Linked DNA regions of Homo sapiens. The protein of the gene in region 1 purifies or fractionates together with the protein of each later gene. This does not show direct contact. Each region holds a gene or a part of one and is shown on either strand. Other genes may lie near its edges. The genes, in order: MAMDC2 and CDAN1.

Region 1 (3,904 bases):
AAACACATGAAAATTTGTTCCTACCTTTAAAAAAGGATTCCAGATATATTTTCCTTATTAGGGAGAAGGTTACTAATTTTCTAATACTGAAAGTGACATCTGAGTGAAGACCTCATTAGGCGGTGAGTTGTGTGGCTCTTTGTGGAAGAGCATTTTGAGCAGAAAGAACAGCCAGTGCAAAATTCTGAAAGGATAGCTGGACTGTGTTTGAGGATCAGCCAAGAGGTCTGTGTGGCTAGAGAAGAGTAAGCAGGGTGATTGAAGTCAGAGAAATAAGAGGGTGGGGCTGGGTGCAGTGGCTCACGCCTGTAATCGCAGCACTTCGGGAGTCCGAGGCAGGTGGATCATGATGTCAAGAGATTGAAACCATCCTGGCCAACATGGTGAAACCCTGTCTCTACTAAAAATACAAAAATTAGCTGGGCGTGGTGTCACACGCCTGTAATCCCAGCTACTTGGGAGGCTGAGGCAGGAGAATTGCTTGAACCTGGGAGGTGGACTTTGCAGTGAACAGAGATCGCACTCCAGCCTGGTGACAGGGTGGGATTCTGTCTCAAAAAAAGAAAAAGAAGGAAAGCAAGAAAAGAAAGAAAAGGGTGGAGCAGGTCCTATAGGGCCTGGTTGGTCATCGTGAAGACTTTGGACTTTACTAAATGACTTGGGAACTTGTTGGGTCTTGAGCTAAGGAGTGACATGGCCCAATTTCTGTATTAAAAGGATAACCCTGACTAGTGTGTTCAGAATAGAGTAGGGTGGGCAGGGCAGAAAATGAAGGGAGACCGTGGTCAGGAGGCCACTGCGGTATCCCAGGTTGATGGCAAGGGCAGCTTGGACCAACCAAGGCATCACCACCATGGGCACAGAGCATGGTCAGCATCTGCTGTGTTTTGAATCCTGAGCTGATAGAAATTGGCAATGTCTGACAGGAACGGATGAGCTGAAGATGCCTCCAAGTTTTCTCTCCTGAACAACTGGAGGAAAATAGTTCTTTTACTGAGATGAGGAAGACACAGGGGACGGGCAGGTTTGGCAAGAAATATGCAGCCTTCATGTTGGGACCTGTTAAGTATGAAATAGCTCTGAAGCATCCGATTGGAAATGTTGAGGTGGCAATGAGATCGAAGAGTCTGGCGTTAGTGAGTAGTCTGGGTTAGAAATATAAATGTGGGAGTTATCAGGCTATCATTGGTATCTAAAACTATGAGACTTGAGGACAGCATTGAGGGGCTGGATAGAGAAAGAAACAGGAGTGACAGGGAAGAACTTGGAGGCACTCTCATGTTAAGGGGTTACAGAGGTAACGCAAAGAGGCCGAGAAGCGGCGGCCAATGAAAGACCAGGAAACCCAGCGGTCTGGAAGCCAGGTGAAGGCATGGGAGCAGGTTGAACTGATGGCTCAACTGGAGTTTGTTAGGCCAGTGGTCCTCAAAGTATTGTTCCAAACCCGCTGCGGCAGCAGCAGCCTCTGGAAACTTATTAGGGACGTGCAGCCTCTCAGGCCCACTCCAGAGCTACTGGATCGGAAACGGAGGGTGAGGCCCTTCAGCAGATTCTGATGCACCCTCAGGTTTTAAAACCACTGCCCTCCTCACAAAATTGCCTGCACAAAATTATAAATGGGAGAAAGGAGGAGGAGGAGGAGGAAGAGGAGGGGAGGAAGAAGAACTCTTTACAAGAAAAGAATATTGTTGGAGACCCACTTAGTGCCCAAAGCAAACAGCTTCCTCAGAAGTAACTCCCTCCCCAACAACCCCCTCCCAGTGTAAAGCCTCCCATTAATCAATCTATCATGGCTCTTTGGAGAGAAGGAATGCCCCCATTTCACCGGACGGAGGGAATGCTGAGCACCAGGCATGCCAGACATTCCACCGGCTAAAAAAAGTGGGGGTGGTATTCCAGGGTTAGCATTGCTGGACCGTAAACGCTGAAACTCCTTAGATATAAAGCTTATTCCACCCAACCGTTTCCAAATTTTCCTCCAGGCTGTCCTTGGAGAATTCCACCCTCTTTCATTCTGGGGAGAAGAAGTTAAAATTAGGGCCAGCCCTGCGGGACTGACATGCCAGATGCAGGGAAGCTGTCCCCAGAAATAAGCGAGTTCCCACCGCGGCTGGGCGGGGCGGGAGCCTCGGGTCCCAACCCAGCGGAGGGACTCCTGGAAGGCCTGCCCCTTCCAAGTGTCTGCAAGGGCTCTGGTCCCAAGCTTTAAAATCCTGAGCGAAGGCACTGCGGGCCGACCTCTCCTCTCCCAGCCAGTCGTGGCTGGCCTTTCAAAGTGTGCAGTTGTCTCCTCCCTGTCCAGCCCCATCGTCGCCCAGGACCAGCTGGGCCGCGGTCTGACCTGAGGCTGCTGCTCAGCGCCGGGGCGCTGGCGCTCTCCATTCGAGCACCTTCCAGCATACCGCTCGGCTCCGGGAGCCGCTCTGCAAAGTTGGGCAGCTCAGAGCGCAAGCTTTGCCTCTCGACTTCTCCCTCCTTGGGTCCCCGGCGCCCCCGCCTCCCACGATCCCTTTCACTAGGAGCAGCCAGTCCCAGCGGGCTGGCAACTTGCACCCCTTCCTAGTCATCCTCCCTGAAACGCGACCATGCTGTTAAGGGGCGTCCTCCTGGCGTTGCAAGGTAAGGCCTGGACCCCGGGACAACCCCGGGGGCGCTCTGACGACTCGCCCCCGCTCCTGCTGCCCCCGGGGGTCCGGCTCACCGTGCTGGGCTGGGCCATCCGAGGGCGCCTCCTGATCCTCCGCAGCCGCTAACTCCCTCCCCTGGCCAAGCCTGGGGTGGGGGTGGGGGTGGGCGTGGGGTCGCTCAGTGGAGGCGCCCGGGGATGCTGGGGGACAGGTACTGCATCCCTCTCCCGCCCCCTCCCGCTCGTCTTTCCCCCACTTTCACCAGGTAGTCCCCCTGGGGCTCCCCGAGTTGGTGCAAAGGCTCCTGGGTGGAGCTCGAACTGAAACTCGCTTTGTGCCCGCAGCCCTGCAGCTCGCCGGTGCCCTCGACCTGCCCGCTGGGTCCTGTGCCTTTGAAGAGAGCACTTGCGGCTTTGACTCCGTGTTGGCCTCTCTGCCGTGGATTTTAAATGAGGAAGGTAAGGAGGCTCGGTGGAGAGGGGCGCGAAGTGAACTTTCTTCCTTGATGGCTTGCTTTTTTTTCCCACATGGGTAATGTTATCTTGGAGTTAATTCTCCGCGGCAAGAAAAGTGTGAGTCATGGATCCTCCTTCAAGCCCTCAGCTGTGCTGCAAGGGATGGCCGAGGCAGGAACGGGGCGGGCGGGAGGCCGCCCTTTGTTTACCTGGCCTATGGGTAGAAGCTTAAAATTTGCGTCTCACCCCAGCACTCCTTAATGGAAGGGAGAAACGGAGCACAGCTAATGATTGTTCTCCGCTGTGGGCCTCTGCAGGCACACCAGCTGTGTGCCTCTGCAGGCCAGCAACCTTTCTGGTCCTCAGGAGACATGTCTGTGAGTTGGGAAAAGTTGCATGGGACTAGTTCTCCTTCAGCTTTGCAGAAATGGTTCCACAATTCTGTGATGGGACGTCAGTGCTAAGACATCACGTCTGCCTTGACCCTGACAGTGTTTTTTGCTGCATGATTTCATCCTCACACTCCTGTTTGTAATCCTGCCCTGGACAAAAGAAACCATGTACACTGCCAAATGCCTGGGGTCCCTGTCTCACTGGTGGTCATTGTCTTACTACTCTATACTGTTTGGGTCCCAAGGACAAAGTTTAAATGTGGGGTCTTCTGAAGTGTCATCTTGCCTTTATATAGTTTTTTTTGTTTTTTGTTTTAAAGTGTGGTTCTCAGTACCCAATGGCAGGCGGCACTGGGTGTCCCTTCTTTCCTTTCTCTCTCTTTTGTCACCACCAGTGAAGCCTGATGCCCACAGACTATTTGGATTGGAA
Region 2 (3,904 bases), on another chromosome or scaffold:
GGTAGTAACCCCAGCTTAGTTGCCCACTAGCCTGGACCTAACCCTTCCTAGCTTTCATAAATTCAGGCAACCCTGCTGACGACACTTCAGTGTAATGTGAGCTAACTCTGGGCAAGAATAAGAGGGAGAAGTTTTCTCAGCATGACCCTGCAGTTCCTAACGTTCCTGCTGTATTTTAGGTCTCTCTGGTGATGCCTCCCTCTACTCAAGCTGTCTCCTTTCAGCCAGAGACTGACAATCGTGCCAACTTCTCCAGTGACCGAGCCTTTCATACTTTTAAGAAACAGAGGTGATAAGAAAAGGGACTTTTTGGGGAGGGAATGAGATGACATTTTTCTGGAATAGGCAGCTGTTTGGTTTCATAGAAATTAGGAGTTTGGCACCAACAGGTGGTGGGTTAGTCCCCCCAGGTCCTTCCTGCCGGCCATCATAGGGACCACCTGGCTTCATTCTCATGTGCATCTGTGAACCCCGGCGCTTAGCAAGCCATCTCACAGGTGTATGGTTTTAGTCTCAGGGTTCTCAAGCAAGAGTGTGCCAGGATGAACTGTCACTGCCCACAGAAGTACATGAAGCCTGTAATGTGCTGCTGGTCTGTAGCACTACTGTCATCATATAGAGAACTCTGGAGAAATTTAAAAATGGGGCTGCTGGCCGGGTGTGGTGGCTCACGCCTGTAATCCTAGCACTTCAGGAGGCCGAGGGGCGGATCACCTGAGGTCAGGAGTTTGAGACCAGCCGGGCCAACATGGTGAAACTCCGTCTCTACTAAAAATACAAAAATTAGCCAGGCGTGGTGGTGGGCACTTGTAATCCCAGCTACTCTGGAGGCTGAGGCAGGAGAATCGCTTGAACCCAGGCGGGGCGGAGGTTGCAGTGAGCTGAGATCGCGTCATTGCAATCCAGCCTGAGTGACAAGAGCAAGACTCCATCTCCAAAAAAAAAAAAGGTGGTGGGTGGGCTACGGATAGTTCTTCCAGGGGCAGGAAGGCACTGGTGGGAGTGAGTGCCTCGGCTGATCAGGCGTTCTTATGCGTCAGGGATGTGTTTTATGAGGTGCTGCGAGAGTGGGAAGATCACCATGAGGAGCCTGGCTGGGATTTTGAGAAGGGCTTGGGCAGCAGAATCAGGTGGGTGCTCAGACCTTGTCTTTCTTGTTCCTGGCAATGAGTAGCTCAGTGCTTGCTCGGTGGCAGGAGGGAGGAGGAGGGAAGGTTTTCCCCGCTCCTACCAGCCATTAGCTGTTTTCTACTATCCTCCGAAATCTCTTTAGTTATTGATAACTCTGCCTCTATTCGAAAGGGATGTGTCTCTCCAGCTCCTTCCACTCACAGGTGTCTTATCCTTGTTCTGTAGTGGCAATTGCTTAGAAAGTCCAAAGCTCTTAACTCAGGTTGCTTGAGGTTTTTTTGGCCCAAGTCACTGCTTAGACACATCCAGCCTCCATCTTCTCCATCCTCTAATTTGGGCAAGTCTGGTCACTGTGCAGGTAGATGCCTGGGCTCAGAACGCGAACCTCAGTCCAGTCATCTCCCTTCACATTGCTCATGAAACCCGCCGCCTGTTAGTGTGGCTGAAGACGGTCGGGGGGTGTGGTCGCATGATTTCTTGTTTGGTTAAGTGCACCTCTAGCCTCGGAGGACCTTGGTGCTGAGGGAGTGTCCCTTGCCTTCAGTGTCCCTTTGCAGGCTGGCTCTGGCTGAGGTCTGCTCAAGTCCCTGGTAAACGGCTGGGAAGTCCAGGGGTTGGCTGCTTCTCTCAGATCTTTCTCCCTCTCCCTCCTTTCCACACCCTTCATTCCTGCCTTCTATTCCTCAGGGCCATGATGGGTCAGCTCTCCGCAGCCTGCAGCCACAGCCACTTTGTTCGGCTTTTCCAAAAACAACTACTCCAGGTAACAGCCCCAGCAAGAGATTAATCCACATTAAACAGCAGGCATCACAGGCAGCCACTTAACGGCTGCACTTTGGGATAGGGCAGACAGCCTGGCAGGTCCTGGGCTGGAATTTGAACAAGAGTTCTACTCCTCGCGGAGTGGCTGAAACTCCAGTGGCCACAGAAAAGCCAGGGCACTCTCTTTGACACATCCCGGGCCCTGCAGCTCCTCTAGCCTGCTGCTGCCTTCCCTGATTTGTGCTGTGGTAAAGAGCCCAGGCTTAGTAAGTAGTCAAGCTTTGTTTCAGATCCTAGCTCTAGTGACCCTAGGCACATGCTTAACCTTGGAATTTAAGTTTCTTCACCTGTGAAACAATACTGTAATTCACATCTCAGAAAATCTATCTAAAGCACTTGACACAGTTGGCATTCCTTAAATGTTCATTACTTTCTCCTTATTTTTTGTTCAGTCCTTCCCTCCCACTTGCTGATTTTTTTAATTTCTCTCCTTCCTCTTCCACCCTAGATGTGTCAGAGCCCTGGTGGTGCTGGGGGCACCGTCTTGGGCGAGGCCCCAGATGTGTTGAGTATGCTGGGAGCTGACAAGCTGGGGCGGTTGTGGCGCCTACAGGAACGGCTTATGGCTCCTCAGAGCAGTGGGGGGCCCTGCCCACCCCCCACCTTCCCAGGCTGTCAAGGCTTCTTTAGGGACTTCATCCTTAGTGCCAGCAGGTAGGCTCCCCTGTGTCTTGCAAGGAATGGGGCAGAGGCCAGGAAAGGTTTGGCTTCCCAAAAGGGTAAATAGTTCTCCAGTCTCCTTTGCCTGGAGATAGGCTCCTTCCAGCTCCAACTTGCTGGCTTCATTGCACTTCTCATTCTGTCACCCACGTGGGTGATTTCATTGCTCCTGGGCCTCCCTGTCTGTCCTGCTGCTCCCTTCCCTCTGGAGTGCCCCTTCTCGATTCTGGCTTTTCCTGTACCTCTTCCAGTGCTTATGCCCCACCCACCCCTTCTTCTCAGCTTCCAGTTTAACCAGCATCTCATGGACAGTCTGAGCTTGAAGATCCAGGAGCTCAATGGTCTTGCCCTGCCCCAGCATGAGCCCAATGATGAAGACGGGGAGTCAGACGTAGACTGGCAGGTCCGAAAACAGAACAAGGGAAATAATGGGGTCTGACCCAGGAGGGAAGGGAGTATGTTCAAGAAAAACTTTATAACAGATCGGGAATTGTTCTGGAAGCCTCATGCTTGGACCTTTTACTTCCCTTGATTCCATGCAGGGTGAGCGGAAGCAATTTGCTGTGGTGCTTCTTAGCCTGAGACTTTTGGCTAAATTCCTGGGCTTTGTGGCTTTCCTGCCATACCGGGGGCCTGAACCTCCCCCGACCGGTGAGCTTCAGGACTCCATTCTGGCCCTCAGGAGCCAGGTGAATGGGCGGGGGATTCTGGTGAGGAGGGAGCAGGGAGGACCGGCCAGGCACTGAAGCTGACTGGTTTCCTTGGCTATTCTGGAAACCAGGCAGGTTAAAGGGCATCTCCCAGCCCTTCCTAGGGACCTGCCCCCTGACTGAGCTCTGGCCCTCCCAGGTCCCTCCGGTCCTGGATGTGCGGACTCTGCTGCAGCGAGGGCTGCAGGCCCGCCGGGCGGTGCTCACCGTGCCCTGGCTGGTGGAGTTTCTCTCCTTTGCTGACCATGTTGTTCCCTTGCTGGAATATTACCGGGACATCTTCACTCTCCTGCTGCGCCTGCACCGGTGAGTGGAACAAGGCTGAGGCTTGATGAAAGGATTCGGGACTCGGGACATTGGTCAAGCCTGCTATTAATAAAGAGGGTCGAGCAGTCTGCACTGTGCGTGTGGGGCCCTGGCCATAACTGAGCCCTGGGAGAGGCACGATTGGCTCCCCTGAGGTACAGTGGGAAATCATCTGCACTTTCATTGGCCTCATGCTGTTCCTGAGGTGGCCCCGCTGAGAGACAGTCCCCATGCAGGAGGCGGGGCTGGGGGGATCCTGCTTGCCAACATGGCCC

What was found.
Region 2: the proteins of MAMDC2 (region 1) and CDAN1 purify together in Homo sapiens (affinity purification with mass spectrometry; 2 studies listed by BioGRID and IntAct, with this or other methods). This does not show direct contact.

What each region holds. Positions count from the first base shown.
Region 1 is NC_000009.12:70,041,613-70,045,516, forward strand, and holds the start of MAMDC2 (MAM domain-containing protein 2 isoform 1 precursor), read left to right. Parts: upstream 1-2,235; 5' UTR 2,236-2,585; coding exon 2,586-2,619; intron 2,620-2,971; coding exon 2,972-3,085; intron 3,086-3,904.
Region 2 is NC_000015.10:42,730,323-42,734,226, reverse strand, and holds part of CDAN1 (codanin-1), read left to right. Parts: coding exon 1-1; intron 2-179; coding exon 180-289; intron 290-1,040; coding exon 1,041-1,130; intron 1,131-1,818; coding exon 1,819-1,894; intron 1,895-2,401; coding exon 2,402-2,607; intron 2,608-2,895; coding exon 2,896-3,016; intron 3,017-3,155; coding exon 3,156-3,302; intron 3,303-3,462; coding exon 3,463-3,629; intron 3,630-3,904. UniProt on the Homo sapiens protein: May act as a negative regulator of ASF1 in chromatin assembly.